Linked DNA regions of Homo sapiens: regions 2, 3, 4, 5, 6 and 7 are each linked to region 1. Evidence: fine-mapped expression QTL. A gene starts in region 1. Each other region holds a variant in brackets. All regions are shown on one strand. Distances are between the middles of the regions. Region 1 holds the start of WDR6 (WD repeat domain 6). Region 2 overlaps ARIH2 (ariadne RBR E3 ubiquitin protein ligase 2). Region 3 overlaps PFKFB4 (6-phosphofructo-2-kinase/fructose-2,6-biphosphatase 4). Region 4 overlaps RBM6 (RNA binding motif protein 6). Region 5 overlaps RHOA (ras homolog family member A). Region 6 overlaps USP4 (ubiquitin specific peptidase 4). Region 7 has its middle 14 kb from the start of LAMB2.

Region 1 (4,207 bases):
AATGAGAAAGTCTAATCCAGTGGTTCTCCACAGGGGGCAACTTTCCCCACAGGAGACATCTAGCAATAGCTGGAGACACGTACGGCTGTCTCCAGGGGTTGTGCTACTGGCAAGTAAGGCCAGGGATGATGCTAAACATCCTACAATGCACAAACAGCATTCCAACAAAGAATTATCTGGTCTAAAAGGTCAATCGAGGCAAGATTGAGAAAACCCTGGTCTAATCTAACAAGACTGGGTGAGTGTAAGGGGAGGCCAACTTGAGGACACAATATTTAGAGTTAGGATTCAAGGATAAGCAGCAGTTAGCCAGAGGAAAGGAGGCGGAAGAGGGGGACTGGGAAATGTTGGGGCGGGGGGGGGGGGGTGGGGAGCAATGGGAGGGTTTGCAGCTTTCTTGGTGGAGAAAACAGCATGTATGATTGCCCTGAGATGGGCAAGAGCATTGAGTATGGTGGATGGAACAGGAAATGAAGAGCTCAGGAAGAGGCTAGAGAGGCCGGGTATGGTGGCTCATGCCTATAATTCCAGCAATTTGGGGGGCTGAGGCAGGCGAATCACTTGAGGTCAGGAGTTTGAGACCAGCCTGGCCAACATGGTGAGGCCCCATCTCTACTAAAAATACAACAATTAGCTGGGCATGGTGGTGGGCACCTGTAATCCCAGCTACTCCGGAGGCTGAGGCAGGAGAATCACTTGAACCTGGGAGGCGGAGGTTGCAGGGAGCCGAGACCGTGCCACTGCACTCCAGCCTGGGTGACAGAGGAAGACTGTCTCAAAAACAAACAAACAAACAAACAAAAAACACACACACACAGAATTGTAGCTATATAAAAGTCACTTTGGAAGCCACAGAAGTAGGTGAATTCACTTGCAGAGCTTCTTAAACTGCATTTCCCAAGTTATTCCCCACCTTAAAACCCTTCAATAGGTTCTCCCCACTGCCCTTAGGGATAAAGTCAGATCAAGGCCTGAAACAATGTGGCCTCTGCTCGCTTGTCCAGCTTCCTTTCCTCCCAGACTCCATTCCTGCTCTAACTTCACAAGAATTCCCTCCTTCCCCCAAAATGACAGATTCTTCCAGCCTCAAGGCCTTTGGCATGCTTACCCTCTTGCCAGGAACTCACCCCTTTTCCTAGTTCACTCTTGTGGTTCTTTGAGTTTCTGCTTCGTTGTTCCCCCTCAAGGAGCCTTAGGAGTTTAGCTCGCGGTAGGAACTCCGCGCTCCAAGAACCCCCACACCAGATCAAAACTGGATCATCCCCACCCCATACACACACCCTCTTAGGACTGGTGGCAACTCACTCAAGGCCTGACCGCCAAGGCCCTGCCTCAGGACCCTTATACAACTCAGCAGCACCAACATGGGTCATTAGTGGCTTCATGTAATGACTGTTCGAGACCAGCCTGGACTCTGACACCTCAGGTCCCAGGCCTCGCCTGTCCTTTGCGACCCGGTTCTCCTTGGAGGGACCTCCACACCTGATTTCCTGGACCTCAACCATCTCAGGAGGGGGTCTCAGCCCCTGCTTCCCCGGGCACCGCCCCCTACTCGGAAAGGTCTTATCCGCCGTTTTCCGCGACGCCACCCTCCTCAGAGGATCTTCACCCCCACCTTAGGGGGAAGAGACTCATCCCGCCCTCGAGAGGCCACACCCTTGCCCTCTCCCGGCCCCGCCTTCCCCAAGAGGCCACACCCCCTGAGGGGCCGGGGCCGCCTCCGCCTCCTCCTCCTCCTCCTCCCTCCGCCCCCCCCAGCTCGGCCCCGTCTCCTTCGGAGAGGCCAAGCCCCCGCCCATCTCCTAGAAGGGAGCACACCCCCTCAACCCTCAGCTCCCGGGCCTCCGCCTCCGCCTCCGCGCGGCCGCGTTCCCCTGCACCCTCCCGCGGTTCCACCCGCCCTTTCCACGCGGGCTGAAGTTTATGAAGCGCCGCGGCGGCCACATCAGCTTTGTCTCTCGGGCCCCGCCCTCTTCAGGTTGGCCCTCGTCCCCGCCATCTCCGGGGCTCCCTTCCCACCTCCGATCGGCCTCAACCTGCTGCCCGTCCTTCTCCTCAGGGCACCCCTTTTGTCCCTGTGGCACCGCCCCTGGGAGGCGCTGTTTCTTTCCCCCTTTCCACCAGGCGTGCCTCAAGCCAAGCCTCACCCGCCAACAGCCGGTCCCCCACGCACTCCAGACCCGTCACTGGGAGGAGTATAAGCTCCGAGGTTGCCCGCGGCCAAACGTAGTCCTCGAGAGCGTCCATGTCGATCCTCGAGGTGCTGAGGCAGCCACGGCTAAGAAGGGAGCTGAACTCTCGCGAGAACGAGCCTTCCCAGCGCGCCGCGCTGCCCATCAACAGCGCCCTCAGCTACAGGTAGCAGAGACCAGGGCGCCCGCGGCGGTTGTCCAATGACGACCCTTCGTCCCACGCAATCCAGCTCATCATTGGCGGGGCCCGCGGAGGGGCATCCCGCCCCTCGCCCCCTCACGTGACGCTTGCGGGGCGCTCCCAGCTGCCAGCCCGCTGCACCTATCGCGGACTCTGTTTCGCCGACCCGGAGTTTGTCGGGCCCGGCGGCTCGAACCTTGTGGTTTTTTATTTGACGGGGCAGATGGAGTCAGTACACAATAAATAACATGAATATAGGAACTGCGCCGTATCGCGGCTGGCGGGGTGGGGCAAGACATTGGCCAGACCTTTAGTCTGCAGCAGGACAGAAGGACAGCCGGACCCCTGATCTTGGGCAACTGGCGACCCGCGGCTGGGAACCGGGGCTAACTCTTCCCTCAGAGTTCCACGCGCGCATCGCGGTAGGCCCGGTCCAGAGCCCACTCGGGCTGTGAGTCGGTGCCCCCTTCTCGGGCAAGGCGGGCCATCTCCTGTTGGAACAGCGCTTGCCGCGCTCGGCTGGGGTCCACATTAATCCAGTTGTTGGCAATCCACTTGGTGCCGCGCGTGACCAGGCAGCCCCCGTGCAGCGAGTAGTCGTCTACGTCACCCACCCAACCTAGAAGAGGAGGGTGACGTGAGATCCTAGGCTGGGCTGGCCAGAGCTTGGCCTCATAGGCACCAAGAGCATGACCAAGGTGGGTCCAGCTATGCATTCCTTGTGTAGCAAACACCCAGACCTAAAGCTTCCTTGGAGGCTCCTCATCTCAGCCCACTAATGTATAGTCAACACTACTGGCCCTCTGAAACCAGCTTTCTTGCTGTTGGGCCTGTCCATATCCCTTCCCATCCTGGGTTAGCAAGGGACATGTGTCCCAAGCCCCAGGGAGTAGGAAGGCTGGGGCATCAGGGAATGATAGGGATGGATATAACCCAATAAGCAGTACAGGTCCTGGGGCAGTCTGCTAAAGTCACTAAGGATGGCCTTTGGGAGGCACCAGGAGCAGAAAACTATTTGGAAAGCAGCCAGAAACAGCCCTCCATTGTGGCAGACGGGGGCTGGGTAAAGGGAAGCTGTACTCAGGGCACCCCCCCCAGGCCTGGCCATAGGCCCTCACCTTGCCCATCAGGCAGGTAGTTGTACCAGAAGACTGCTGTGCCCTGTTGGGGCTTGACACGCAGGTTTCCCTTGTCACAGTGCCTCCGTGTGTCACGGAGGTCCACGTCATCCTGAATCAGACTCTGTGGGCAGCAGGGTGGTGGGGTGTTCAACCTGTCCCCACTCTATGGCCAGGCCAGCCAAGGGTGACCAAAGGGAAACCAACCAGATATGCCCAAGGAATAATTTGGGCCCACATCCTTAGACCTGGAGAGGTGTGTACTTCACTTGTCTAAGCCCCTGCCAGCCCACAAGAGTAATAGCCCAGTTGACCCTTACCATTTCATCGTAGGTTCTGTTATCTGCTACAGGGAAAACAGTCTCGCCCCCACCAGTGACGTTGTTCAAATAAAACAGCACTGTCATGTAGCTGTAAGGCAGGGGGGGCACTGAGCAGGTCCCCAGTTGTGGATGCTCCCAGGGGCTTACCTGTGGGCAGGATAAGCTGCCCAGGTTCCTGTTGCCAGGGACCAGGACAGACTAGGATGGGAGACAATAGGGCAGGCCAGTGCCAAAATGTCCCTAGCCCCTCCTTCCCCGAAACCCAGTCTCTTACTGTGAGTTGCAATGGTTTTTTGGCCAAGATCACAGGTGCACTTAGTTAAATGCCATGGCCCTGAGCAAGGGCCTGGCAGGGAAAGGTAGGCTAGCAGAAGCAACAGGGCGCGCTGAAGG
Region 2 (4,207 bases), 82 kb after region 1:
CCTCTTCATTGCTGTCAGACCCCTGGCTATTCATGTCCACTGACATCTTAGCATCCAGCCAAGTTGCAGATCAGGAAAGCAGTTGCTTTTTCCCCCTCCCCCCAAAACTACCGCTTTCTCAAATGCATTAGTATTTTTGTCTTCTAAGGGAGGAAAAAAAAAATAAGTGTTACTTTTTCCCCATGACAAGTTGTAACAGAAACCATTCAAGAATCAAAATGGGACAGTCCTGGCCCTAATCTCACTACAGCCTATTCCAACTCTGGTATCACATGGGGAATCTTACTATCATCCCCCTGGCCCAGGCTTATAAAAGGGAAATCCTTCCCTGGAGAGACAGAAGCAGCTAATAAATGGTAACTTCACATGAAAGGCCTGGCATGACAGGGCAAGGCTGTCTGCTCTATGTCAGAAAGTCAAATTCCAATGAACTTGTTATTCTTGCCAAAGTCCTTAAGGGAGAAGCACATCCCCACAGCTGGCAGCCCAGAGGGGAGGCAACATAAAGGTTTAACTACCAAAGTTTAAAATTTTGCTTATCATGCCCCGTTAGTATTGATACAGACAGTACATAAATAGGAACACTTCCTGCTGTAATATGTAGAAAAAGAAAACCACTGTTTCACAGACATTACTTTTAGGTGTCTGAAAAATAGGTGCATAGTTGGTAAAGAAAAAAAAAACACACATAGGTGTTCAACATCCTCCTCTAGTCTGCAAAGTTGACTGATTTTTCAGGTTTAAAGAGTTCTACTGGCCGGGTGTGGTGACTCATGCCTGTAATCCCAGCACTGTGGGAGGCTAAGGTGGGTGGATCACTTGAGGTCAGGAGTTCAAGACCAGACTGGCCAACATGGCGAAACCCCATCTCTACTAAAAATACAAAATTAGCCAGGTGTGGTGATATGCACCTGTAATCCCAGCTACTCGGGACGCTGAGGCAGGAGAATCACTTTAACCCGGGAGGCAGAGTTTACAGTGAGCCAAGATTGCGCCACTGCACTCTAGCCTGGATGACAAGAGTGAAACTCCATTGGCCGGGTGCGGTGGCTCACGCCTGTAATCCCAGAATTTTGAGAGGCTGAGATGGGTGGGTCACCTGAGGTCAGGAGTTCGAGACCAGCCTGGCTAATATGGTGAAACCCTGTCTCTACTAAAAATACAAAAAAATTAAGCAGGCGTGGTGACAGGCACCTGTAATCCCAGCTACTTGGGAGGCTAAGACAGGAGAAACGCTTGAACCCAGGAGGCGGAGGTTATAGTGAGCTGAGATTGCGCCACTGCACTCCAGCCTGGGCAATAAAAGCGAAACTCCGTCACACACACACGTACACACATACACACACACACACACACACACACGAGGGAAACTCCATCTCAAAAAAGAAAAGCCCGCAAACAGCGAAATGTTACTTAATTACATATAAACGAAAAGAGAATACTAGTTGAGAAAGTGAAACAGTCACAAACCCTAACTTCAACTCACAGAAGATTGTGGCAAACACCCATTAACTTTTCTACACAACTACCATTTCAACTGATGAGCTGAAAGGAACAATATCAACTAGCGATTTAAATCTAAAACTAGGCCAGGTGCGGTGGCTCACGCCTGTAATCCCAGCACTTTGGGAAGCCAAGGCGGGTGGATCACGAGGTCAGGAGATCAAGAGCATCCTGGCCAACGTGGTGAAACCCCATCTCTACTAAAAATACAAAAATTAGCTATACGTGGTGGTGCGTGCGTGTAATCCCCAGCTACTCAGGTGGCTGAGGCAGGAGAATCACTTGAACGAGGGAGTCGGAGGTTGCAGTGAGCCGAGATCCCGCCACTGTACTGCAGCCTGGCAACAGAGTGAGACTCCATCTCAAAAAAAAAAAAAAAATCTAAAACTAATAGAACCTTAAAGTGTAAGAGCATTTGGATTTAACAGTACATAAACAATTTATATAAACAAATCTTGATTAAATACAAAAGCAAATATAAAGTCTACTTGAAGTAGGTAATCTGTCTGAAAAAAAACAACCAACCATAATCTAAAACAAAGACTGAGGGTGTGGCTCACAACTATAATCCCAGAACTTTGGAAGGCTGAGATGAGAGGATCCCTTGAGGCCAGGAGGTCAAGATCCACCTGAACAACCTAGTGAGACCATGTCTCTACAACACATTTAAAAAAAAAAAAAAAGAAATCAGCTGGGCGCGGTGGCTCATGCCTGTAATCCCAGCACTTTGGGAGGCCGAGGCAGGTGGATCACGAGGTCGGGAGATCGAGACCATCCTGGCTAACATGGTGAAACCCCGTCTCTACTAAAAATACAAAAAATTAGCCGGGCATAGTGGCAGGCGCCTGCAGTCCCAACTACTGGGGAGGCTGAGGCAGGAGAATGGTGTGAACCCGGGAGGCGGA[G/A]CTTGCAGTGAGCCGAGATCGCGCCACTGCACTCCAGGCTGGGCGACAGAGCGAGACTCCGTCTCAAAAAAAAAAAAAGAAAAAAAGAAAAAAAATCCCGGCACTTTGGGAGACCAAGGTGGCCAGATCACCTGAGGCCAGGAGATTGAGGCCAGCCTAGCCAACATGGCAAAATCCCATCTCTACTAAAAATACAAAAATTAGGCTGGGCGCAGTGGCTCACACCTGTAATCCCAGCACTTTGGGAGGCCGAGGCAGGCAGATCACGAGGTCAGGAGATCCAGACCATCCTGGCTAACACGTGAAACCCCATCTCTACTAACAATACAAAAATTAGCTAGGCATGATGGCATGCACCTGTAATCCCAGCTACTCAGGAGGCTGAGGCAGGAGAACTGCTTGAACTCGGGAGACGGAGGTTGCAGTGAGCAGAGATTGCACCACTGCACTCCAGCCTGGGCAACAGAGCGAGACTCAATCTGAAAAAATAAAAAAATAAAAAATAAAAAATAAATTAGCTTGGCAGGGTGGTGCACACTTGCAATCCCAGCTACTTGGGAGGCTGAGGCAGGAGAATCACTTGAACCAGGGAGGAGGTTGCAGTGAGCCAAGATCATGCCACTGCACTCCAACCTGGGCAAGAGTGAGACACTGTCACACACACAAAAAATAAACAAATAAATAAAATAAGACAGGCATAGCGGTCATGCGTCTGTAGTCCTGGCTACATCGAAGAACTGCTTGGGCCTGGAAGGTCAAGGCTGCAGTGAGATCGTGCCACTGCACTCCAGCCTAGGCAACAGAGAGATTCTGTCTCCAAAAATAATAATAATAATAATAATAATTCAGGTAAATAATCTTCTACTTAAAAAAAAAAGGCCCACGTACAGTGGCTCACATCTGTATCAGTGGCTCACGCCTGTATCATAATCCCCACACTTTGGGAGGCTGAGGCTGGAGGATCATTCAAAACCAGGAGTTCCAAACCAGCCTGGGTAACATAGTGACACTCACGTCTACCAAAAGGAAAAAGAATTTGTAACCAGTCTAAAAGACTATGGAGTACTGAGACATAGTATCACTCTGTCACCCAGTCTGAGATATAAAAACATGATCATGGCCCACTGCAGCTTCCAACTCCTGAGCTCAACAGATCCTCCTGCCTCAGCCTCCTGAGTAACTGGGACTACAGGCATATGCCACCCCCATACCTAATTTTATTTTTTGTATAAACAGGGTTTTACTATGTTGCTCAGGCTGGTTTCAAACTCCTGGCCTCAAGCGATCCTCCTGCGTTGGCCTTACAAAACGCTGGGATTATAGGCAAGAGCCACTGTGCCCAGCCTACAGTCACATTTTTATATAATAAAAATATTGGCGAGGCGCGGTGGCTCACACCTGTAATCCCAGCACTTTGGGAGGCCGAGGCGGGTGGATCACCTAAGGTCGGGGGTTCAAGGCCAGCCTGACCAACATGGAGAAACCCCGTCTCTACTAAAAACACAAAATTAGCTGGGCGTGGTGGCACATGCCTGTAATCCCAGCTACTCAGGAGGTTGAAGCAGGAGAATGGATTGAACCCCGGAGGCAAAGACTGCAGTGAGACAAGATTGCATCATTACACTCCAACCTGGGCAACAAGAGGGAAACTCTATCTTAAAAAAAAAAAAAAACACTCACTATATCTAAGTTGATATGTTAACTATAAATGCTCCCATTTCTAAAAATTAAAAAAAAAACCCTATTAATTGTGGGGCAATAAAAATAATGTTTGCAGTCTGACCTTTTTTTTTTTTTGA
Region 3 (4,207 bases), 490 kb after region 1:
TGGCTGGCGGTCATTCTGCCCACTATGGGTGGGTGCTTCTGAGAGGCAAACCGCTACTAACCCCAGGTTCCTGGATGGCTCCCTTCTGGCCCATCCATTGGGGCAGGCTGTGGTGGAAAAGGGGCGCCTCAGGAAGCCTGCCCAGCAGTAAGAATTATACCTGCCCCTACAATTCCAGGGGCCGGTCCTATGAGCCCAGGCTGTGGGCCATGGGGGCCATGTCTCTCTCCCTGAAGATCTGGGCATGTCATGTTGCATGGGGCAGCAGCTCAGGTCATCAGTGACCTGCTCCTGCAGGTGATGGTTCCGGGGCCCACAGCTGGGAGGAGGGGCCACCAGGCTCTGGGGCACATAAGACAGCCTCAGAGAGCTAAGGGAAGTTTCAGATTCCCTATTCCTCAGGCCTGAGACTCCCTGAGCCCGACAGGCCAAGGATGGGACTGAGCTCTGCAGTTTGGTGGGGTCCTTCTATAGCTGAGGGCTTCAGGAGGCCCTGTACCCCAGTTCTGAGGGGACAGACCAGGCTGCAGACCAGGAAATGCCCATAGGCTTCTGGGGCACCTCTGACACCTGCGTGCCAACACTTTAAACTAGGAAGGAGGCACCCCCAGGAGTTGAACCCCTTCCCTGCCCCACAGATGAGGATAAAATCCCCAAGCCAGGGGTTCCTCCTCAATTGACTCAGCCCTGAGATAGGAGGTGGGAGTGGCCTTGCTTTGGGTATTGCCTGACCTGGCTGCAGTGGAGCAGGAAACGAGGTGGCATCCTCCACCGCACCTTTGTTCTATTGTCCATCCACCCGCTATGTGGCACGAAGCTCTTGGCCATGTATTCTTAGGGAAGCTTGTGGTCTAGAGTCTTGCGGCTGTGGCTGCTACAGTGAGAATGTGAAGCCTGATGAACCACAGTGATGAGGACGGCAGACAGCAGGCATCTCATCTATTCCTGCCATGGAGTGAACGCTCTGTGTTTTTATTGTACAGAACGTGGACATCTCAAGACCTCCAGAGGAAGCCCTTGTCACGGTGCCTGCTCACCAGTGACCATGTTCATCCACTGTGACCACTAGGCAGGCACTGCTCTCTGCAGAGGGGGTCATTCCAGGCCCTCCAGTGTGTGTGATAGTCACCATGCCATGCAGGGATATTCTTGAAGCCACACATGGCTGGCGGAACCCAGAGCCCCCACCCCAGCCCACCTGGCTCTTTGTTGACAGTCGGCGACAAGGTTGTGCGTGGCTCCTGACCTGCTGCTAAGAGTCACTTGACCAGACTGCATCTGCATGGGCTGCGCGGAGGTTGCCCAGCCCCAGTTTCTTCCGGCGCAGCTCTTAGGTGTTCACTCTCGCCAGCTCAGTTGGCTTTGTGAAGTGTGAAACCCTACAATGTGAAAGGAAAGTGCTTGCTGTGATGTTCCTACTGTGGCCCAGCTGCCCAGCATGGACCTGGTGACTCTCCACAGGGCCTCTACCATCCTCTCTGTGGCCACTTCCTGAGCCAGAGGCCAGGTCTTCATGGGGCCCTGAGCTTCTGCTGCCTCTGGTGAGAGGGAGAGCCCTTCCCATCCTTACCCACCAGGAACTAGAGCCCCAACCACAGCAGATGCTTCCTGGGCAGCCACTGGCCAGGCCGTTGTATCCATGTCACCCTTAGTTGTGGGCATTCATGAAAGCAATGCGCTTGCTTCAGCACATTGGGATGCACAGAAACGTGAGGGCAGGGGGGCAGTTGTGGTCGCCCCTCCCCAGTTGTGCATGTACCCGGCTACTTAGGTATGCTTAGGGGAGCTGGTGGCCAGGGGTGCCCCTTCAGGCCTGCTCTCACAGTGAAACCACTTCAAGACAGGGCAGGAAGTTACCTTCCTGGTGCACACACCGAAGTGCT[C/T]GAGGGAGAGGCTGCCGCCCCCTCTCCCCTTCCCTGGCTGTGGACACTGGCAGCCAATGGGGAGGCGGCCTCTCCCCTGTTGCTGCCCGTGTCCACACAGGAATGTACACTGGTGGCAGAAACATGCATTTGCCATAAATAATTCAGAAACACTTGTATGGTCCTGTAAAACTTCTCTGGTGTTTGTTGACTTCTGCCTGTGGGTCTGAGGAAGGGAGAAGGCAGAACCCATAGGCAGTCCCTGGGCAAGGGAGGATTTTCCCGGCCGCAGCACAGCCTTCCATTCATGTGCACGTGAGTCTGGTGAAAATGGCCTTGTGAAGTCCAGTGTCTGTCATGCCCCTGAGTTCTTTTGGTCCCAGAGAGGCAGCCTGGGCAGTCTGTTTACAGCTGGCAAACAGACTGGCTGGCAAGTTGTGGGGCTGGGTCAGAAAGTGTCTGGACTTGTAATCGGGTGCCCTGCTGTCCACAGGTGGACTCTGGGGAAGCCAGGCCCCTGGATCCCAAGTCCTTTGTGTCCGGAGCCTTTCCTGGCCTGTGCCTGGAGGGTAGCACATCTTTCCAGCCTCCCAGGGCTTTGCAGCCTGCAGATGCCACCTGTCCCTGAGAGAAGTTAGCGTCCCTGGCCCTGGCCGGTGGTCTCTCATCCTTGTGTGCTGCTCTGCTAAGAGATGTCCAAGGCGGAGCCGGGGCAAGATCCTTCCAGACTCATCTGTCAGAGCCCCAAGCCCTTTAGACCCAGAGCCCAAGGACCATGCCTTTGGGACATTAGGACTGCAGCCTTTGCTTCTGTGTATTTTGGAGTTTTGGTGACTTTTGTCACCTGGACACACTCATTTGTTAGCCATAGTGGGTTCCCTTGGTCAGCAACAGTGCATGTACCTCTGGATGTCATCTGAGGTGAGACCACCGAGGCCTTTTCTCTCTGTGTACAGAGGGGAGTTAGGAGTTGCTGGACTGGATGCATTACGAGGACTGGGGACAGGGTAGAGGGACATCCAGGGATCAGGGCATGAGTGGGGGCAACCCCCCGGCCTCTGCCCTGGCATGGTCTCCGCATGGGCTGAGGTGTAGCTGATTGGCTGCCACATTTCGGCCATGCTGGCTGGCGTGCCCATGTTGCAGATATTTTCCCGAGTTCCCCAGAATGGATGGTATTGAATCTCAGCCACATGCAACACTGTGTCCAGCATTCTTTGCAATAAATACTTTTTAAAAAATAATCTCAGGTTGTATTTGGTAGCCAGTTCTCCATTTCTGAAGTGTTTTTTTTCTGGCCTGCTCTGTCGACACCTGGTGCTGTGGTCTTCCTCGCAGGTCTGTGTTGGGATCCTTCGTTCAGCTTCCACCCCCATGTTCACTCTCACTGAAGAGGAATTATGCTGCCCTGGAGTGAGTCCTGGCCTGGCATACATGGGCAGGCGGCCTGGGTCTTCCCTGGGCTGACCTGGGGTATGGGGCCCTTGGCCCTGAACATGAGGCAGATGTGGAGGGGGCAGTGCAGCTGGAGTGGAGCACTGTTAAGGGAAGGATTCTGGGGTCCCTGGGAATGTGGGCTCCAAATGCGGCATTCTTGGGGAGGAGGCCCCGGGAGCTGGGTCAAGGATGTAGTGGCTGCGTGAGGCTGTGGTGACAGTATGCTGACCAGTGTTTTGGTATTTTCTTTTTCTTTTTTTATTTTTATTTTTTGGAGACGGAGTTTCACTCTTGTTGGCCAGGCTGGAGTGCAATGGCACGATCTTGGCTCACCACGACCTCCGCCTCGGGTTCAAGCAATTCTCCTGCCTCAGCCTCCCCGAGCAGCTGGGATTACAGGCATGCACCATCATACCCAGCTAGTTTTTATATTTTTAGTGGAGACAGGGTTTTTCCATGTTGGTCAGGCTTGTCTTGAACTCCCAACCTTAGGTGATGCACCCGCCTTGGCCTCCCAAAGTGCTGGGATTACAGGCGTGAACCACTGCACCCGGCCTATTCTGGTATTGTCTTTGTCACCTGCATCTGGGGTCGGGAAGGTGGAGACAAGGGGCTGGGTGTTCTCTTTCCCATGCCTCAGAACATCATGGGCTGTCCATACTTCCTGCCCTGGAGCTGGCTTTCCGGGAAGTGGGTTGTAGGCGGGGCTCCTCTGTGGGCAAGATGGGGCAGGGCATTGCCGGGTGTTCGCCTGTGCTCCTCCCAGTGTGTCAGGGCAGAGGATGGCTGTCGCTGGGCTGCTTCTGGGTGGTTTGGGGTGGCCAGCAGCTATGTTTCTGCCTTCTCCAACTATGCCAAGGTGTCTGAGGGAGAGGCAACTTTGCAGGATTCAGGTGGTGACTAACCTC
Region 4 (4,207 bases), 990 kb before region 1:
CAAGTCCCTTATATAAAATCACATGGTATTTGCATACAACCTACACACATCCTCCAACATACTTTAAACCATCTCTAGATTACTTATATCTAATACCTAATAAAGACTATATAAATAGTTAACTGTACTTTTTTGTTTTTTGAGACGGGGTCTCACTCTGTCACCCCAGGCTAGAGTGCAGCAGAGTGATCACAGCTCACTGCAGTCTCAATCCAGACTCAAGTAATCCTCTCATCTTAGCCTCCCAAGTTGATAGCCACCACACTTGGCTAATTTTTTCACTTTTATTTTTTGTAGAGATGGGGTCTCCCTGTGTTGCCCAGGCTGGTCTCAAACTCCTGGCCTCAAGCAATCCTCCCACCCGGGCCTCCCAAAATGTTGGGATTACAGAGTAAGCCACCACTCCTGGCCTGTATTATTTTTTATTGTTGCAGTGTTAATGCATTTTTTTCCTGAATATGTCCAATCAGCATTTGGTTGAATCTATGGGTGTGGAACCTGTGGATACAGAGTGTCAACTGTATTTGGTAAGTGATTCAGTGATGGACACTGAACAAATGGTCAATGAGAATCCTCTTAAGTCTAGGGGATATGGTCCTAAGCCTGTCATTCTTTAAGGATCTGACAAGCTTAAACTACTAACAAGATAAGGATACATCAAAAGTCTTCTCTAATGAGTGCTTGCTCCCAAAGCATTTAGAGCATGTCATCTCCATACCCATAAGAGGAGAACTTGGCCAAGAAGAGAAAAGTACGTATAATGAGCCACACTGAGTTAAACAAAGCTGAACAAAGCATCAGGCTACAGAAGAAGAAGAGTTCTCATCTAATAACTACTCTTCTCTGGCAGAGCCTTCTTTTAAGATTCTGGGCCTGGCTGGGCACGGTGGCTCATGCCTGTAATCCCAGGACTTTGGGAGGCCGAGGCAGGCAGATCACCTGAGGTCTGGAGTTCGAGAGCAGCCTGACCAACATGGAGAAACCCCATCTCTACTAAAAATACAAAATTAGCCGGCGTGGTGGCGCATGCCTGTAATCCCAGCTACTCAGGGGGCTGAGACAGGAGAATCGCTTGAACCAGGGAGGTGGAGGTAGCAGTGAGCCGAGATCGCACCATTGCAATCCAGCCTGGGCAACAAGAGCAAAACTCCGTCTCAAAAAAAAAAAAAGAAAGAAAGAAAGATTCTGGGCCCACTGTATTCACACTGTTAAGTATAGGCAGTGGGTACATTAAAAAAAAAAAAAAAGAAAAAAAAAACACATCAAACTATATTCCTAAGTTTCTTTTCCTACTTTACAGATGGAGGAACTGAAACAACCCAAAGAAAACAACTTTCCCCAAGGAAGCACCATAACAAGAAGGATTCTACCTATTTATTAATTCCTCTCAAAACTACCAGGTAGGGTTCTATTAAAGACATAGATGAAAAATCTAGGTGGCAAGCTGAGTAACTCCAGATAGTTCAAACGTAAGGTGAGTACAGATTCTGATTCACCAGCTCTGACTATACGCAGCCAAGGACTTGAGTATGCAACTCCAATTGGCAAAAAACAATGATGAATGCAATAGACACCAACAATCCACTCCTCTCTCTTCCCTGATAGCTCTCTTTTGGAAGTAGCCCCTGCAGGCAGGATCTGATGCCACAGAAGTCACCATCAGAGGTCTTCACCCTAGGTCTGGGTGTAACTATTGACCTAGAATTTCTGTGCTAGGCAGATCCTTGGGGTCACAGACAATCAAGGATCATTCTTTGCATCAGGATTACCATCTCAGTCACACTCCAAAAGGAAACACTCCAGATGTGTCTTTTTTTTTTTTTTCCAACTATTGTCTTTGGAATCTAGTCCAAAAGCAACTGGGCTCTAGCTTTTAAAATGCACTCTGTGCCCATTAAGTTTTGTAGAGAAAGCTTTCCAGCCTTTTTAAAGATTTTCCTCACAACCGATGGTTGGAATACAGTATGCTCCACAGATAGACTTCTTGTACCTTTCCAAAGTAAAATCATTTGAAACCCTCCCTCCCCATATATAAAAAAATATATCCTTCCAGCATCATTTGACCGAAGTATAAAGCAACCTGGTTGGCCTCCATGCATCCGATGGCATCTTCCAAGAGTGAAAACTCCACGCAGACATAGCCATAGTCGTAACCTGGGGACAGCATTTAAATACAGACGGGAGTGGTGTTAGTGCCTTGCAAACACAAAAGACACACTTAAATCCCCTGTTTCTGAACCCCTTAAACACAAGCCCTCCCAACTAACCCCTCCCTCCCCTACACTAGGTAAAGTTGCTACCCCAAATAGAAAAAAGTATTGAAGAAAAGTCTCGATGTTTCTGGACTTTGAGATTCATTCCAAAACAGCCTTTTCTATTAACCAAGAAGATCCTTTGCCCTCTTTAGCACTGGTGATCTGGTGAAGGTACCCCAGAATTGGGTAATCCCACAGAGAGTTCACGTGGGGACCCGAAACATTTTAACCACAGGCTAAATCTTCTGGAAAAACAAAGTCGACAAGAGCAAGAAAGTATCTGGAAAAAAAAAAAAAAAA[AG/G]GTATCCCGAGAGAAGAAAAAAAAGCAATTATCCCCAGGCTATGCTAATAGTCACCACTTTTCAAGCAGAAACCACCTTCAAAGACAGAAGTGCTGACAGACTGAGGCAACTATTCTGTTTGGATACCACAGGAGGCTTCTGGTTGGCAGGGGACAGACCATTTCAGGTCTCCTCTTTTTTTCCTTGTTTCAACTCAAGTCATAAACCAGCTAAAATCTTTATAAAAGGAAGAAGGTGTAAAAGCATAAATAAGTACAAATAACTATGTCCAAAATTGTGCTTATGCACAAAGACTGGTGGTGGGGCAAGCTGGGAGAAAGACAGCAGTTGTTAGCAATCAATACATGTTTAAGAACTGTACAAACCATTAGAGCTATAAAATACCCTTCACCTTACTCCTAAGCAAGTGTCATTTGCAGCACAGGCCTGAGAGTTGTATGACTCACGAGACTGGGAAGTCCTGGGATTTATAGGTTGCTGAACTAGAATCTAACCAGTCCTATAATTTCCCTGACACTGCCACCATGTGACTACAAAAATACACTTGTCAATGCAGTGCTCCCCAAGTGGCTTCCATGCTTCCTCCACTGCCTCAGAGGATAAAGAAGCTCATCTCTAGGAATCACACTGTGTAAATGGAACCGCAAGAAAAAGATGTGATGTTCAGATGAGAAGCAAAACTCAGGCAAAGAAAAACACAAAACCCTATGATAATTTTGACCACAAAGTATATATAACAATAGGAAACTGATATCACTGCATCAATATCAAAGATCAACAAAACTAGAACAATAGAAAGTATAAGTTTAAAAACATACCACATTTGGTGAAATAAGATTCCTTGTCACATGAAATGAATGGCTTCAAAATGTTTTACTAATAACAATAAACTTTGATTTTAGACTTGTTAAATACTCCAAGTTAACTGTGAAACATTACAATGGTATAGGTTGATTCTTGTTTTGAGTTTCAGAAAATGACTAGGAAGAAGAAAAACAATCTACTAGAAACCTCAGCACTACTGTAGGATGAGAAATAGATTTTCTAATCTACTTTTAGTTTTGACCAACGTGGATTAAAACTAACCCCTCCAAACTTACCACAAAATCAGTCTCCTCTGCTTAATAACTCTTTGAAGAAATAAAAATACTTTAGAGAAACAGCATGCATATCCTATTAACAATGGAAACTGCTTTGTTAGTTAATTCCTTTCAAGTGAATCTTCTTGATCAAACTCATTGAACACCTAATACATAAATCACTCTGCATTTTATAAACAGCTCTGAATATTCTTGGGAAACATTACAGAATAACAGAAGGAACTAAGACACCTGTTAGCACCAAATATCCACTGCAAACACTCAAATGCATGTCTACAATCAGAAAGGGTTAGCCATGGAACAAACAGGTGTACTCTCTAGTGTGTTGATTACCTCTACAGAACATATCAATGGAGTACCCAGGTGTGTGGAAAGCAACCCTCTCCATAGCTGCCCGGATGAAAAACATAGAGAACTAATACTAAAACTGGCAAAGCCCTAAGTTTCCTTTCTGTGCTTAAAGAAGTAACTACTGTGGCCCAGAGGAGCACACAGAATCTGTGGACAGAGAGAAAAGATTCATGACAACGTTCATACTTTGCTAAAGGAC
Region 5 (4,207 bases), 390 kb before region 1:
TCCTGGGCTCAAACAGTCCTCCCACCTCAGACTCCCAAAGTGCTGCAAGTACGGGCATGAGCCACTGAGTCCAGCTATCTTCAACTTTCACTATTCAGGTTACAGTTTGTAGTACCTTTTTTCGGGGGTGGTGGGAGGGTAGTGGGAGTAGCACCCTAAGATTTCTTGGAATAAAACAGGGCTTACTACTTGGTTCCTGGTACTTAAGAACAGTGGTTCCTAGACTCCACTGTTCCCAAACTTGGAATCCAGTTCCCCAAATTGGAATCACCTGAGGTTTAATTACCTTCATGGAGGTTTAATTTGCATACAATAAAATGCACATACTTTAAATGATAGTTTGATAATTTTTTTGTTCTTATTTTTTTTAGACATAGGGCCTTGTTCTGTCACCCAGCTGAAGTGCAGTGTCGGAATCATGGCTTACTACATCCTCGACCTCCTAGGCCCAAGAATTCTCTGCTTTAGCCTCCCGAGTAGCTGGGACTGCAGGTGTGCACCACCACGCCTGGCTACATTTTTATTTTGTAATTTTTTTTTTTGTAGAGAGAGGGGTCTCACTATGTGCTCAGACTGGTCTTGAACTCCTGGCCTTAAGTGATTCTCTCGTCTCAACCTCACAAAGCCCTGGGATTATAGGCATGAGCCACCACAAACCGCCAGTTTGATAAATTTTGATGAATGTGTATACCCAAGTAATTGCCACTCAGTCGAGTTAAAGAGCATTTCCTCAAGGCTTTAAATTTTTATTTTTATTTTTGAGACGGAGTCTTATTCTGTCATCTAGGAGTGCAGTGCCGCAATCTTGGCTCACTGCAGCCTCTGCCTCCCGGGTTCAAGTGATTCCCCTGCCTCAGCCTCCTGAGTAGCTGGGACTACAGGTGCGTGCCACCACACCCAGCTAACTTTTTGTATTTTTAGTAGAGATGGGGTTTCACTCTGTTAGCCAGGATGGTCTCGATCTGATCTTGTGATCCGCCTGCCTCTGCTTCCCAAAGTGTTGGGATTACAGGCGTGAGCCACCGCGCTCGGCGGGTTTCTTTTTTTTTTTTTTTATGAGATGGAATCTCGCTCTGTTGCCCAGGCTGCAGTGCAGTGGCACGATCTCAACTCACTGCAACCTCCGCCTCTCGGGTTCAAGCGATTCTTCTGCTTCAGCCTCCCGAGTAGCTGGAACTACAGGCACCCGCCACCACGCCCGGCTAATTTTTTGTGTTTTTAGTGGATACGGGGTTTCGCCATGTTGGCCAGGCTGGTCTCAAAGGCCTGACCTTGTGATCCTCCTGCCTCGGTCTCCCAAAGTGCTGGAATTACAGGTGTGAGCCACTGCTCCTGGCCTAAAGTTTTTTAGACTAGTTTTTTTGTTCATTCGTTTTATTTGCTTGGCTTCCTAGAATATGACAAGTTTTGGTTTGTTTTTGAGACAGAGTCTTGATCTGTTTCCCAGGCTGGAGTGCAGTGGTGCTATCGTGGCTCACTGCAGCCTCTAACTCTTGTGCCCAAGTAATACTCCTGCCTCAGCCTCATGAGCATCTGGGACTACAGGCAAGCACCACCATACCTAGTTAATTAATTTAATTTTTATAGAGATGACGTTTTGCCATGTTGTCCAGGCTGGTCTCTAACTCCTGAGCTCTGGCCTCGCAAAGTGGTGGGATTATAGGTGTGAACCACTGCACCCGGCCTAGTTTTTTATTTTAAGAAATATATATACTTGGTAAAAGTAAACTCCTGCAATAAGGTTTACAATAAGCATATATAAATTCTTAGCCAGCTCACTGGGAGGTACCTAATGGTTCATTTTTCTTTGTCAGTTTTACTAGATACGCATTGTCTTAGAGGCA[A/G]TGTAAGTTTGGAATTAGGCCAAACAAAGTCAAATCCTGATTCTGTGCATCCATTGAAGGTTAACCTTATAATATTTACATTTTGAGATAAATGATTTCATGCTCTTATTTAGGAAACTTGACGGTATGTTACCTCAGGGATTGTTCCTTGCCTGTCTTTCCCCAAAGAACTTGAGTTTGAAGTGATTTTCACTTGGCAGTAAATTGAAGGTTTTCTTCATTGCTTACCACCATGTGCCTTATTCCTGCTGCTCTTGATCTCCAAGTGCCCTTACTGCTACAGAAAGGAAAGCTCTTGAACTAAGAGCTTGGCAGCCACTTGATCAGGATGGCCAAATAATGGCAGTACAGGTTGAGCATCTGAAATGCTTCAAGATGGGCGCTGGCATGACATTCAAAGGAAATGCCTAGTGGTGCCTTTCAGACTTTCAATTTTTGGATTTGGGATACTGAACCAGTAAGTATAATGCAGATATTCCAAAATCTGAAGAAATTCTGAAATCTGAAACACTTCTGGGCCCAAGCATTTTGGATAAGCAGTACTCAACCTATACCAGGCTCAAGTTCATTATGGACAGATGGATGGATGGTAGTTTGGCCCTTTCATCAGGAATTTCCCATGCAGTCAGTAAACAAAATAAACAGCTCTATGTTTTCAACTTCATTTCCCCAATTTTTTTTTTTTTTTTTTGAGACAGAGTTTCATTCTTGTCGCCCAGGCTGGAGTGCAGTGGCCCGATCTCCACTCACTGCAACCTTTGCCTCCCAGAGGTTTCGCCATGTTGCCCAGGCTGGTGTCAAACTCTTGGGCTCAAGTGATCCATCCGCCATGGCCTCCCAAAGTGCTGGGATTATAGGCATAAGCTACCTTGCCTGTCCGTTTTCATATTTTTTTGAGAGATGAGGTCTCACTGTATTGCCCAGACTGGTCTCCACCTCTTGGCTTCAAGCAGTCCTCCTGCCTCCCAAAGTGCTGGGATTGCAGTTGTGAGCCACCACACCTGGTCAGGAGTTTTACATACTATGCGTTGTTACTTGTAGGTCTTGTTTGGAAAGAAGTAACTTCCTAAGGTCAATTCAGAAAAGAAGGGTAGTAACTTAGAGGAAGTAAATTTGAAGGCCCTAGTGTCTAATATTAGTAATTTGGGCTTTTGAAAGTTTCCTTTCTAAAAGGTAGGAAATTAACTCTTTTTTTTTTTTTTTTTTTTGAGACGGAGTCTCTGTCGCCCAGGCTGGAGTGCAGTGGTGCAATCTCAGCTCACTGCAAGTTCTGCCTCCCGGGTTCACGCCATTCTCCTGCCTCAGCCTCCCGAATAGCTGGGACTACAGGCGCCCGCCACTATGCCCGGCTAATTTTTTTGTATTTTTAGTAGAGACGGGATTTCACCGTGTTAGCCAGGATGGTCTTGATCTCCTGACCTCGTGATCCGCCCGCCTCGGCCTCCCAAAGTGCTGGAATTACAGGCGTGAGCCACCGTGCCCGGCTGGAAATTAACCCTTTTATATACCATCCCCCCACCTCACCTTTTTGGCTACAATCTTGCTCTGTCACCCAGGCTGGAGTGCAGTGGCATGATCATAGCTCACTGCAGCCTTGAACTCCTGGGCTCAAGGGATCCAGCTACCTCAGCCTCCTGAGTAGCTAGGATTACAGACGCATGGCACCAAGTCCTGATACAGTCTTCTCTGTACCAGAACAAAGTATTCAGTGATTCAAGCTCACATAGGCATGAAACAGCACTGAAAGACGAAGTGCTGTAGGAGTTCAGGGATAAAGAAGAATTTAGAGTAGCCAGGAAGCCACTGAGGCCTCTGGTGGTGAGGGTGTAACTCTTGGCCTTTAAAATGAGGTTTAGGGGAAATGTTATGAGTAGTGGGAATCAACCCTTGGCCTGAACACAGATAATCTTGTTTTATCTCCTTATAGAAACAGGAGGTGGTGGGGGGTGGCCAGTTTTGGTTAGACTAGGGAAGATGTTGGGGGAGAGGGGGGCAGTATGCTTCTGTAGTTTCGTTTTTTTTGTTTTTTTTTTTTTTTGAGATGGAGTCTCGCTCTGTCACCCAGGCTGGAGTGCAGTGGCGCGGTCTCGGCTCACTGCAAGCTCCGCCTCCCGGGTTCAAGCGATTCTCCTGCCTCAGCCTCCCGAGTAGCTGGGATTACAAGCACGTGCCACCATGCCCAGCTAATTTTTTTGTATTTTTAGTAGAGACGGGTTTCACCTTGTTGGTCAGGCTGGTCTCGAACTCCTGATTCGCCCACCTCGGCCTCCCAACGTGCTGGGATTACAGGCGTGAGCCACCGTGCCCAGCCGTTTCTGTAGTTTCTTGAGTTCAGATTCCAAGATGGATTTTTGCATATGTAT
Region 6 (4,207 bases), 320 kb before region 1:
AGTTTTTCTTTTTTATCCTCTTCTCTCCCTCCAATTATAGAAGAAATACAAATTCCTCATAAAATCTTCATGGATAAAGAGAAAACATGGATAAAGACAAAAGTCTGCTCTGTATAATGACCAGTGACAGAATTTTGGAATTTCATTCCTGTTTCTTTCTGTAAATAATTTTCTTATTTCTGAAAAGTACATGGAAATCATGTAAAACCATCATTTCTGGGGTAAAGAGCAGTGACTTATGTGCTCTTTTCCTTTTTTAGATCCTGAGAGTCAGACCTTGAAAGAACACTTAATTGATGAATTGGACTATGTATTGGTCCCTACCGAGGCGTGGAATAAACTACTAAACTGGTACGGCTGTGTAGAAGGCCAGCAACCCATCGTCAGAAAAGTGAGTTATGTGAATTGTCCCACCTGCTGGTCACTGTCTGCAGGTGCTTTCTGTTGGACACTGACTAGTGTTTGCTAGGAAAATGAACATACCTCAGTGGTTGAATAGTGGTGCTTGAGGCCTTGTTTCTGGATCTCTTTTTTTTTTGAGATGGAGTCTTGTGCACTTGTCGCCCAGGCTGGAGTGCAACGGCACGATCTCGGCTCACTGCAGCCTCTGGCTCCCAGGTTCAAGTGATTCTCGTGCCTCAGCCTCCTGAGTAGCTGGGATTACAGGCGCCTTTCACTACGCCTGGCCAATTTTTGTATTTTTAGTAGAGACGGGGTTTCGCCATGTTGGCCAGTCTGGTCTCAAACTCTTGACCTTGTGATCCGCCCGACTCGGCCCCCCAAAGTGGTGGGATTACAGGCGTGAGCCACTACGCCCAGCCTGTTTCTGGTTCTCTTTAGGAAATTGTGGTTGTGAGTGAAGTTGCTCACCCAGAATATTATCATGAGTGGCCTCTAAACATCAGAGCTGCCCAGTGGCTTGGAATGTGCCCAGCAGCGCTGTGAGAGAACTTTCTGGAAAATTCTATGAGAGAAAGTTCACTGGGGGCATATGGACATATAGCTAATGTCCTGCATCTTGTTTATCTTAAAAAACCTTTATGATACTGCTTTTCCCTCTATGCTTAAGAGTCTTTGAGCTAGGCGCAGTGGCTCACATCTGTAATCCCAGCACTTTGGGAGGTTGAGGCGGGTGGATCACGAGGTCAGGAGATCAAGACCACCCTGGCCAACATGGTGAAACCTCGTCTCTGCTAAAAATCCAAAAATTAACTGGGTGTGGTGGCACATACCTGTAGTCCCAGCTACTCGGGAGGCTGAGGCAGGAGAATTGCTTGAACCCAGGAGACGGAGGTTGCAGTAAGCCGAGATCACCCCACTGTACTGCAGCCTGGCAACAGAGTGAGACTCGGTTGCAAAAAAAAAAAAAGAGTCTTTGATCAGGCCGTGCATGGTGGCTCACGCCTGTAATCCCAGCACTTTGGGAGGCTGAGGCAGGCGGATCACGAGGTTAAGAGATCGAGACCATCCTGGCCAACATGGTGAAATCCTGTCTCTACTAAAAATACAAAAATTAGCTGGGCATGATGGTGGGCCCCTGTAGTCCCAGCTACTCGGGAGGCTGAGGCAGGAGAATCTCTTGAACCCAGGAGGTGCAGGTTGTAATGAGCTGAGATCGCACCACTGCACTCCAGGCTGCTGACGGAGGAAGACTCCATCTCAAAAACAAAAAACAGTGAAGAATAGGCTTCTCTCTAATATCATCAAGATGCTCTTGGTCTTAGTGGGTAGAAAAAAAATATATATATATTTTTTTGCGGGGTACAGAGTCTCGCTCTGTCGCCCAGGCTGGAGTGCAGTGGAGCGATCTTGGCTCACTGCAGCCTCCACCTCCTGGGTTCAAGCGATTCCCCTGTCTCAGCCTCCTGAGTAGTTGGGATTACAGGCACATGCCACCATGCCCGGCTAATTTTTGTATTTTTCATAGAAATGGGGTTTCACCATGTTGGTCAGGCTGGTCTCAAATTCCTGACCTCAAGTGATCCACCCACCTCGGCCTCCCAGAGTGTTGAGATTACAAGCGTGAGCCACCACACGCGGCCAGAAAAAATATTTTTAAACTCTTTGTCCAGGTACTGGTAGCTTTAAAAATCTGTTCTTTTGATCCCTTGATCAGTAAAGGAAATGGATTATCATGAGTTTTCTGCTTTTTGCTTCTGATAAGATATGCTACATCCAAGACTGCCCAGCTGCAAAACCGCTATGCCCTCACCCCTGCCTCTTGTTCATAGGTTGTGGAGCATGGCCTGTTTGTCAAGCACTGCAAAGTCGAGGTGTATTTGCTGGAACTGAAGCTCTGTGAGAACAGTGACCCCACCAATGTGCTGAGTTGCCATTTCAGCAAGGCAGACACCATTGGTGAGAGGCTGGGCTGGGGTCCCTGGTATGTGGTGAGAGAGTGTAGGACATTGTGGCTGATGGGAGGGAAGAGGGCATTATTTTATA[T/C]GCCCTCTTTAGATTTGTTACCCAAATCATCTCGAGCTGTAGTTGCCAGTCCTGACCTGGGGGCCTATTCCTCCAGGAATTCTTATGGAGAGAACACTGGGCCTGCTCCTTGCCCATTTGTCTATGATAATGAAGATAAGGAAATGTAGATCCAAAGAAGTTTAAAAATAACTTATTTAAAAATCTCAGCAAGGTTTACAGTGAGCTACGATCCCACCACTGCACTGCAGCCTGGGCATCAGAGCAAGATCCTGTCTCTTAAAAAAAAAAACAAATCGCAGCCAGAAAATGGTGGAGCTAGCTTTTGAAGCCATATCTGAGTTAACTCCAAAGATAAGCTTTCTCGCTTTCTATGTTGCTTTTGCGCCATAAATGAGAGACACACGTTAGCAAAGAAGCATAGGGATACTTTCCAGGCATATGAGTGCAAGAGGCCACCCATGGGAGATGATTGATTTTAAGAGGTATCAGGGGGTTGATCCAGAGCACCTGTGAGCATCTGACAAGAAAGAGGATGAGCATTAGTTTGCCATGGCTGTCTTTAGCCTTGCATGTGGACAAAGCCCCAAGTGATATTTCTGCCTGTTCCTAGCAACCATCGAGAAAGAGATGCGGAAGCTATTCAACATCCCTGCGGAGCGTGAAACACGGCTCTGGAACAAATACATGAGCAACACCTACGAGCAGTTGAGCAAGCTAGACAACACTGTCCAGGATGCTGGGCTATACCAGGGTCAGGTAGGAGGGCCCTGGCCATTCCCCAGCAGGTAGCTCTGCCCAGGGTGTGTGGCCAGATACTTTTTGCTTCTAAGCATGTTGGAAGTGCGGTGGTTTGAACTCTCCTCATTTGGTTTCCCCTTTCACTCAGGTGCTAGTAATTGAGCCTCAAAATGAAGATGGCACATGGCCCAGGCAGACCTTGCAGTCAAAGTAAGTGAATTTTTTCTCCCTTGTTGTAGGCTCACATGTGCAAAAGAGACAGTCTTTCCTAAGGCAGTACTTGTACTAAGAAAAATTGTTCTGATTCAGATGAACAATGCCTATTTTGTATATCCAGAGTTCATGCTTCTGGATGAAGACCGTGGCTTTTGGTAGCAGGGCAGCATCTAAGGGAAGCCTGTCAGGATATCTCAGCAAGGTGGCGAGCCTCTGCTCGTGGAGAATGAGAAAAGGAGGAAGGGATATGAGGGATCAAGTCTAAGGTTGCTGCTCTACCAGGAGGTTGCTTTGTTTTTGTCACGCTTTTATTTTCTCCACATGTAGTTAGAGGCCTTGATGGATAAGAGGAAGGCTAAGGCATGGGGTTTTATATGACTTAAAAGTGATAGTTGAGGCCTGAGCATGGTGGCTCATGCCTGTAAGCTCAGCACTTTGAGAGGCCGTGGGAGGTGGCTCACCTGAGGCCAGGAGTTCGAGCCCAGCCTGGTCAACATGGTAAAACCCTGTCTCTACTAAAAATACAAAAATTAGCTAGGCATGGTGGCAGGTACCTGTAATCTCAGCTACTCGGGAGGCTGAGGCTCAAGAGTCGCTTGAATCCAGGAGGTGAAGGCTGCAGTGAGCTGAGATCGCACCATTATACTCCAGCCTAGGTGACAGTGCAAGACTCTGACCCAAAAAAAACAAAAACAAAAAAAAAGTGATAGCTTGATTCTACCTGTTTCTGCCCAGTGGCCTGTTACTCATTGTTGCCCTGGGAGCTTGCTGGGTGAATTGTTCAGCTACAAAACTTGGACTAAGGACACATCTGTTTCAAGAGATG
Region 7 (4,207 bases), 140 kb before region 1:
TCCTGCCTCAGCCTACCAAGTAGGTGGGACTACAGGCGCGTACCACCATGCCCAGCTAATTTTTGTATTTTTAGTAGAGACGGGGTTTCACTATGTTGGCCAGGATGGTCTCGATCTCTTGACATTGTGATTGTCCCGCCTCAGCCTCCCAAAGTGCTGGGATTACAGGCATGAACCACCGCACCCGGCCGAAACCCCATTTCTACTAAAAATACAAAAATTAGCCTGGCGTGGTGGCACACACCTGTACTCCCAGCTACTCGGGAGGCTGAGGTGGGACTGAGCCGAGATCGCGCCACTGCACTCCAGACTGGACGACAGAGCGAGCCTCCATCAAAAAAAAAGAAGAAGAAAAAGGAAAGAAAGAAAGGACGGAGGGAGGGAGGAAGGAAGGAAGGAACGAAGGAAGGAAGGAAGGAAAGAAGGAAGGAAGGAAGGAAGCATGGAGGCATCTCTGGGACCACATGATCATTGCAGCATCACCTCACCTCTTCTCCTCTCCCCATTCACTGCAGGGTTGTGGTTCTATACAGACTTTCTGCTTTGATCCAGGAACATGCTGCTACTCCACGACACAGGCTATGGCAGACCAAGAGGGAGTGTGGAGGACTGAGGGAAGCTTCATCCATCTGCATTCAGTGATGTCCTAGGGGCTGCACCCTACATCTGGCAGAGACATAATTTTTTTTTTTTTTTTTTGAGAGGGAGTCTCGTTCTTGTCACCCAGGCTGGAGTGCAATGGAGCAATCTTAGCTCACTGCAACCTCCGCCTCCCAGGTTCAAGCAGTTCTGCCTCAGCTTCCTGAGTAGCTGGGATTACAGGTGCCCACTGCCACACCCGGCTAATTTTTTTTTTTTTTTTTTTTTGAGACGGAGTCTTACTCTTTTGCCCAGGCCTGAGTGCAGTGGCGCTGTCTCGGCTCACTGCAAGCTCCGCCTCCTGGGTTCACGCCATTCTCCTGCCTCAGCTTCCCGAGTGGCTGGGACTACAGGCGCCCGCCACCATGCCTGGCTAATTTTTTGTATTTTTAGTAGAGACGGGGTTTCACTGTGTTAGCCGGGATGGTCTCGATCTCCTGACCTCGTGATCCGCCCGCCTCGGCTTCCCAAAGTGCTAGGATTACAGGTGTGAGCCACTGCGCCTGGCCTTTTTAAAATTTTTTTATATATTTATTTATTTTTTGAGATGGAGTTTCTCTCTTGTTGCCCAGGCTGGAGTGCAGTGATGTGATCTCTGCTCACTGCAACCTCTGCCTCCCAGGTTCTAGCGATTCTCCTGCCTCAGCCTCCTGAGTAGCTGGGACTACAGGCGCATGCTACCATACCTGGCTAATTTTTTTTTTTTTTTTTTTTTTAGTAGAGGTGGGGTTTCACCATGTTAGCCAGGATGGTCTCAATCTCCTGACCTTGTGATCCGCCCAACTCGGCCTCCCAAAATGCTGGGATTACAGGCTTGAGCCACCGCACCTGGCTACCCGGCTAATTTTTGTATTTTTAGTAGAGTTGGGGTTTCACCATATTGGCCAGGCTGGTCACGAACTCCTGACCTCAGGTGATCTGACCACCTTGGCCTCCCAAAGTGCTGGGATTATAGGTGTGAGCCACTGCGCCTGGCTCAGAGACATAAATTTTATTTTATTTATTTTAATTTTTTTGAGATGGAGTCTCACTCTGTTGCCCAGGCTGGAGTGCAGTGGCGCAATCTTGGCTCACTGCAAGCTCCGCTTCCTGGGTTCATGCCATTCTCCTGCCTCAGCCTCCTGAGTAGTAGCTGGGACTACAGGCGCCCGCCACCATGCTTGGCTAATTTTTTTGTATTTTTAGTAGAGACGGGGTTTGACTGTGTTAGCCAGGATGATCTCCATCTCCTGATCTCATGGTCCGCCCACCTCGGCCTCCAAAAGTGCTGGGATTACAGGCATGAGCCACTGTGCCTGGCCAATTTTATTTTTTTATTTTATTTTATTTTATTATTATTATTATTTTTTGAGATGGAGTCTTGCTCTGTCACCCAGGCTGGAGTGCAGTGGCGCTATCTTGGCTCACTGCAAGCTCCGCCTCCCACGTTCACACCATTCTCCTTCCTCAGCCTCCCAAGTAGCTGGGACTACAGGTGCCTGCCACTGCGCCCAGCTAATTTTTTGTTTTTGTATTTTTAGTAGAGATGGGGTTTCACCGTGTTAGCCAGGATGGTCTCGATCTCCTGACCTCATGATCCACCCGCCTCGGCTTCCCAAAGTGCTGGGATTACAGGCGTGAGCCACCACGCCTGGCCTATTTTATTTTATTTTATTTTATTTTATTTTATTTTATTTTATTTTATTTT[T/ATTTTT]TGAGATGGAGTTTTGCTCTTGTCACCCAGGTTGGAGTACAGTGGCACAATGTTGACTCACTGCAACCTCTGCCTCCCAGGTTCAAGCGATTCTCTTGCCTCAGCCTCCTCAGTAGCTGGGATCACAGGTGCTGGCCACCTTGTCTGGCTAGTTTTGTTTTATTTTATTTTATTTTATTTTTGTGTTTTTAGTAGAGAGAGGGTCTCACCACATTGGCCAGGCTGGTCTTGAACTCCTGACCTCAGGTGATCTGCACGCCTCGGCCTCCCAAAGTCCTGGGATTACAGGCATGAGCCACCTGCACCCGGCCTCTTTGTTTGTTTATTTACTTATTTATTTTGAGACAGAGTTTCGCTCTTGTTGCCCAGGCTGTAGTGCAATGGCACGATCTCGGCTCACTGCAACCTCTGCCTCCTGGGTTCAAGCGATTCTTCTGCTGCAGCCTTTGGAGTAGCCGGGATTATAGGCGCCTGCCACCATGCCCAGCTAATTTTTTTTTGTATTTTTAGTAGAGACGGGATTTCACCATGTTGGCCAGACTGGTGTTGAATTCCTGACCTCAGGTGATCCACCTGCCTCGCCCTCCCAAAGTGCTGAGATTACAGGCGTGAACCACTGCGCCCAGTCTCTGAGACATAAATTATAGCAAGACAGGATTGGTGCAGTGAGGCTGGGAGGCAGGGGATCATAGAGGCCTGGAGTTGCAGCAAGAGGATTAAGACCTACATAGATGGAGAGTGTAGGCAGAGGAGCCCAGGCAGGGGAAACAGCTCATGCAAAAGACAGAAGATAAGAATAGGCAAGTGCCAGATCTCATAGGACCTTTTGGGCCAGGAGAGGGGCTTAACCTTTATCCCAGGGGAAGTGGGGAACCATGGAAGAGATTTAAGCAGGGAAGAGATGTGGGGAGAATTTATTGTTTGGTGGAAGGCCCAGATGCAAGCTCCCGAAATGATTCTGAGTGAGAGATGGCATTCTCTCTACTAGATTGGGGCCACTGGAGATGGAGGAAAAATTGACTCAAAACAGATTAGGGGTTCAAGGGGCCGGGCATGGTGGCTCACGCCTGTAATCCCAGCACTTTGGGAGGCCGAGGTGGGATCACCTGAGGTCAAAAGTTTGAGAGAAGCCTGGTGAACATGGTGAAACCCCGTCTGTACTAAAAATACAAAAATTAGCTGGGCGTGGTGGCGGGTGTCTGTAATCCCAGCACTTTGGGAGGCCGAGTTGGGCGGATCACAAGGTCAGGAGATTGAGGCCATCCTGGCTAACATGGCGAAACCCCACCTCTACCAAAAAAAAAAAAAAAAAATTAGCCAGGTATGGTAGCATGCACCTGTAGTCCCAGATACTTGGGAGGCTGAGGCAGGAGAATTGCTTGAACCTGGGAGGTAGAGGTTACAGTGAGCCAAGATCACAGCATTACACTCCAGCCTGGACAACTAGAGCAAAACTCTGTCTCAAAAAAAAAAAAAAAAAAAAGAGAGAGATTAGGAAACAGAAGGGGGGCTGAGGGGTGGGGGTAGGGATGTCCCCCTTGGATGAGGGCCAATCCAAGAAAGGTGGCAAGTAAGTGTTAATGAGTGGGGCTGATTGCCTCTTGCTGGCTTCCCTTGACCCTCTTGCTAGCTTGTGCACCTGCCATGGGTGAACACGTTGCCTGGGCTGGGGTCTTTGTACCCTGGGGCCTCAGGCATTTACAGGAGTTCCACCAGGCAGGCTCATGGAGGCAGCAAGGCCAGGCCTCTCCAGCACGATGCCTGAAGCCTGTGCCTGCCTGTTCTGCAGCATCTCAGCTCTGCTCCATGGGGATGGGCCTCAGTGAGTGTATGTGCCAGGCTTGAAGTGGCTTCAGGGTAGGGGTTGCAGGAGCACCATGA

Evidence for each region.
Region 2: its variant is fine-mapped to the expression of WDR6 in whole blood (TOPMed, PIP above 0.99).
Region 3: its variant is fine-mapped to the expression of WDR6 in whole blood (INTERVAL, PIP 0.95).
Region 4: its variant is fine-mapped to the expression of WDR6 in whole blood (INTERVAL, PIP above 0.99).
Region 5: its variant is fine-mapped to the expression of WDR6 in whole blood (INTERVAL, PIP above 0.99).
Region 6: its variant is fine-mapped to the expression of WDR6 in whole blood (TOPMed, PIP above 0.99).
Region 7: its variant is fine-mapped to the expression of WDR6 in whole blood (INTERVAL, PIP above 0.99).

Annotation. Positions count from the first base shown.
Region 1 is chr3:49,005,472-49,009,678 of GRCh38, reverse strand. WDR6 (WD repeat domain 6) reads right to left here and starts at 2,288. Exons shown (of 6, transcript NM_018031.6): 1 at 2,148-2,288. The coding sequence starts at 2,247. P4HTM (prolyl 4-hydroxylase, transmembrane) reads right to left here. Exons shown (of 9, transcript NM_177939.3): 7 at 3,812-3,902; 8 at 3,492-3,615; 9 at 2,526-2,992. The coding sequence ends at 2,772. RefSeq lists silencers at 1,614-1,793, 2,334-2,383 and an enhancer at 2,522-3,510.
Region 2 is chr3:48,923,398-48,927,604 of GRCh38, reverse strand. It overlaps ARIH2 (ariadne RBR E3 ubiquitin protein ligase 2), which reads right to left. Exons shown (of 16, transcript NM_006321.4): 3 at 1-143. The coding sequence starts at 46. Among named protein-coding and RNA genes, the nearest start is that of ARIH2OS, 6.1 kb to the right of the region's middle. RefSeq lists enhancers at 612-671, 2,445-2,945, 2,946-3,446. The variant G/A (reference allele first, on the strand shown) is at 2,409.
Region 3 is chr3:48,516,583-48,520,789 of GRCh38, reverse strand. PFKFB4 (6-phosphofructo-2-kinase/fructose-2,6-biphosphatase 4) reads left to right here. Exons shown (of 14, transcript NM_004567.4): 14 at 984-3,106. The coding sequence ends at 1,043. Among named protein-coding and RNA genes, the nearest start is that of SHISA5, 15 kb to the right of the region's middle. The variant C/T (reference allele first, on the strand shown) is at 1,884.
Region 4 is chr3:49,997,387-50,001,593 of GRCh38, reverse strand. It overlaps RBM6 (RNA binding motif protein 6), which reads right to left. Exons shown (of 21, transcript NM_005777.3): 6 at 2,081-2,154. Among named protein-coding and RNA genes, the nearest start is that of RBM6, 59 kb to the right of the region's middle. The variant AG/G (reference allele first, on the strand shown) is at 2,556.
Region 5 is chr3:49,399,887-49,404,093 of GRCh38, reverse strand. All of the region lies in intron 1 of RHOA (ras homolog family member A), which reads left to right. Among named protein-coding and RNA genes, the nearest start is that of RHOA, 10 kb to the left of the region's middle. The variant A/G (reference allele first, on the strand shown) is at 1,845.
Region 6 is chr3:49,323,870-49,328,076 of GRCh38, reverse strand. It overlaps USP4 (ubiquitin specific peptidase 4), which reads left to right. Exons shown (of 22, transcript NM_003363.4): 3 at 261-391; 4 at 2,232-2,358; 5 at 3,038-3,183; 6 at 3,314-3,375. Among named protein-coding and RNA genes, the nearest start is that of USP4, 14 kb to the left of the region's middle. The variant T/C (reference allele first, on the strand shown) is at 2,446.
Region 7 is chr3:49,144,722-49,148,928 of GRCh38, reverse strand. No RefSeq gene overlaps it. Among named protein-coding and RNA genes, the nearest start is that of LAMB2, 14 kb to the right of the region's middle. The variant T/ATTTTT (reference allele first, on the strand shown) is at 2,327.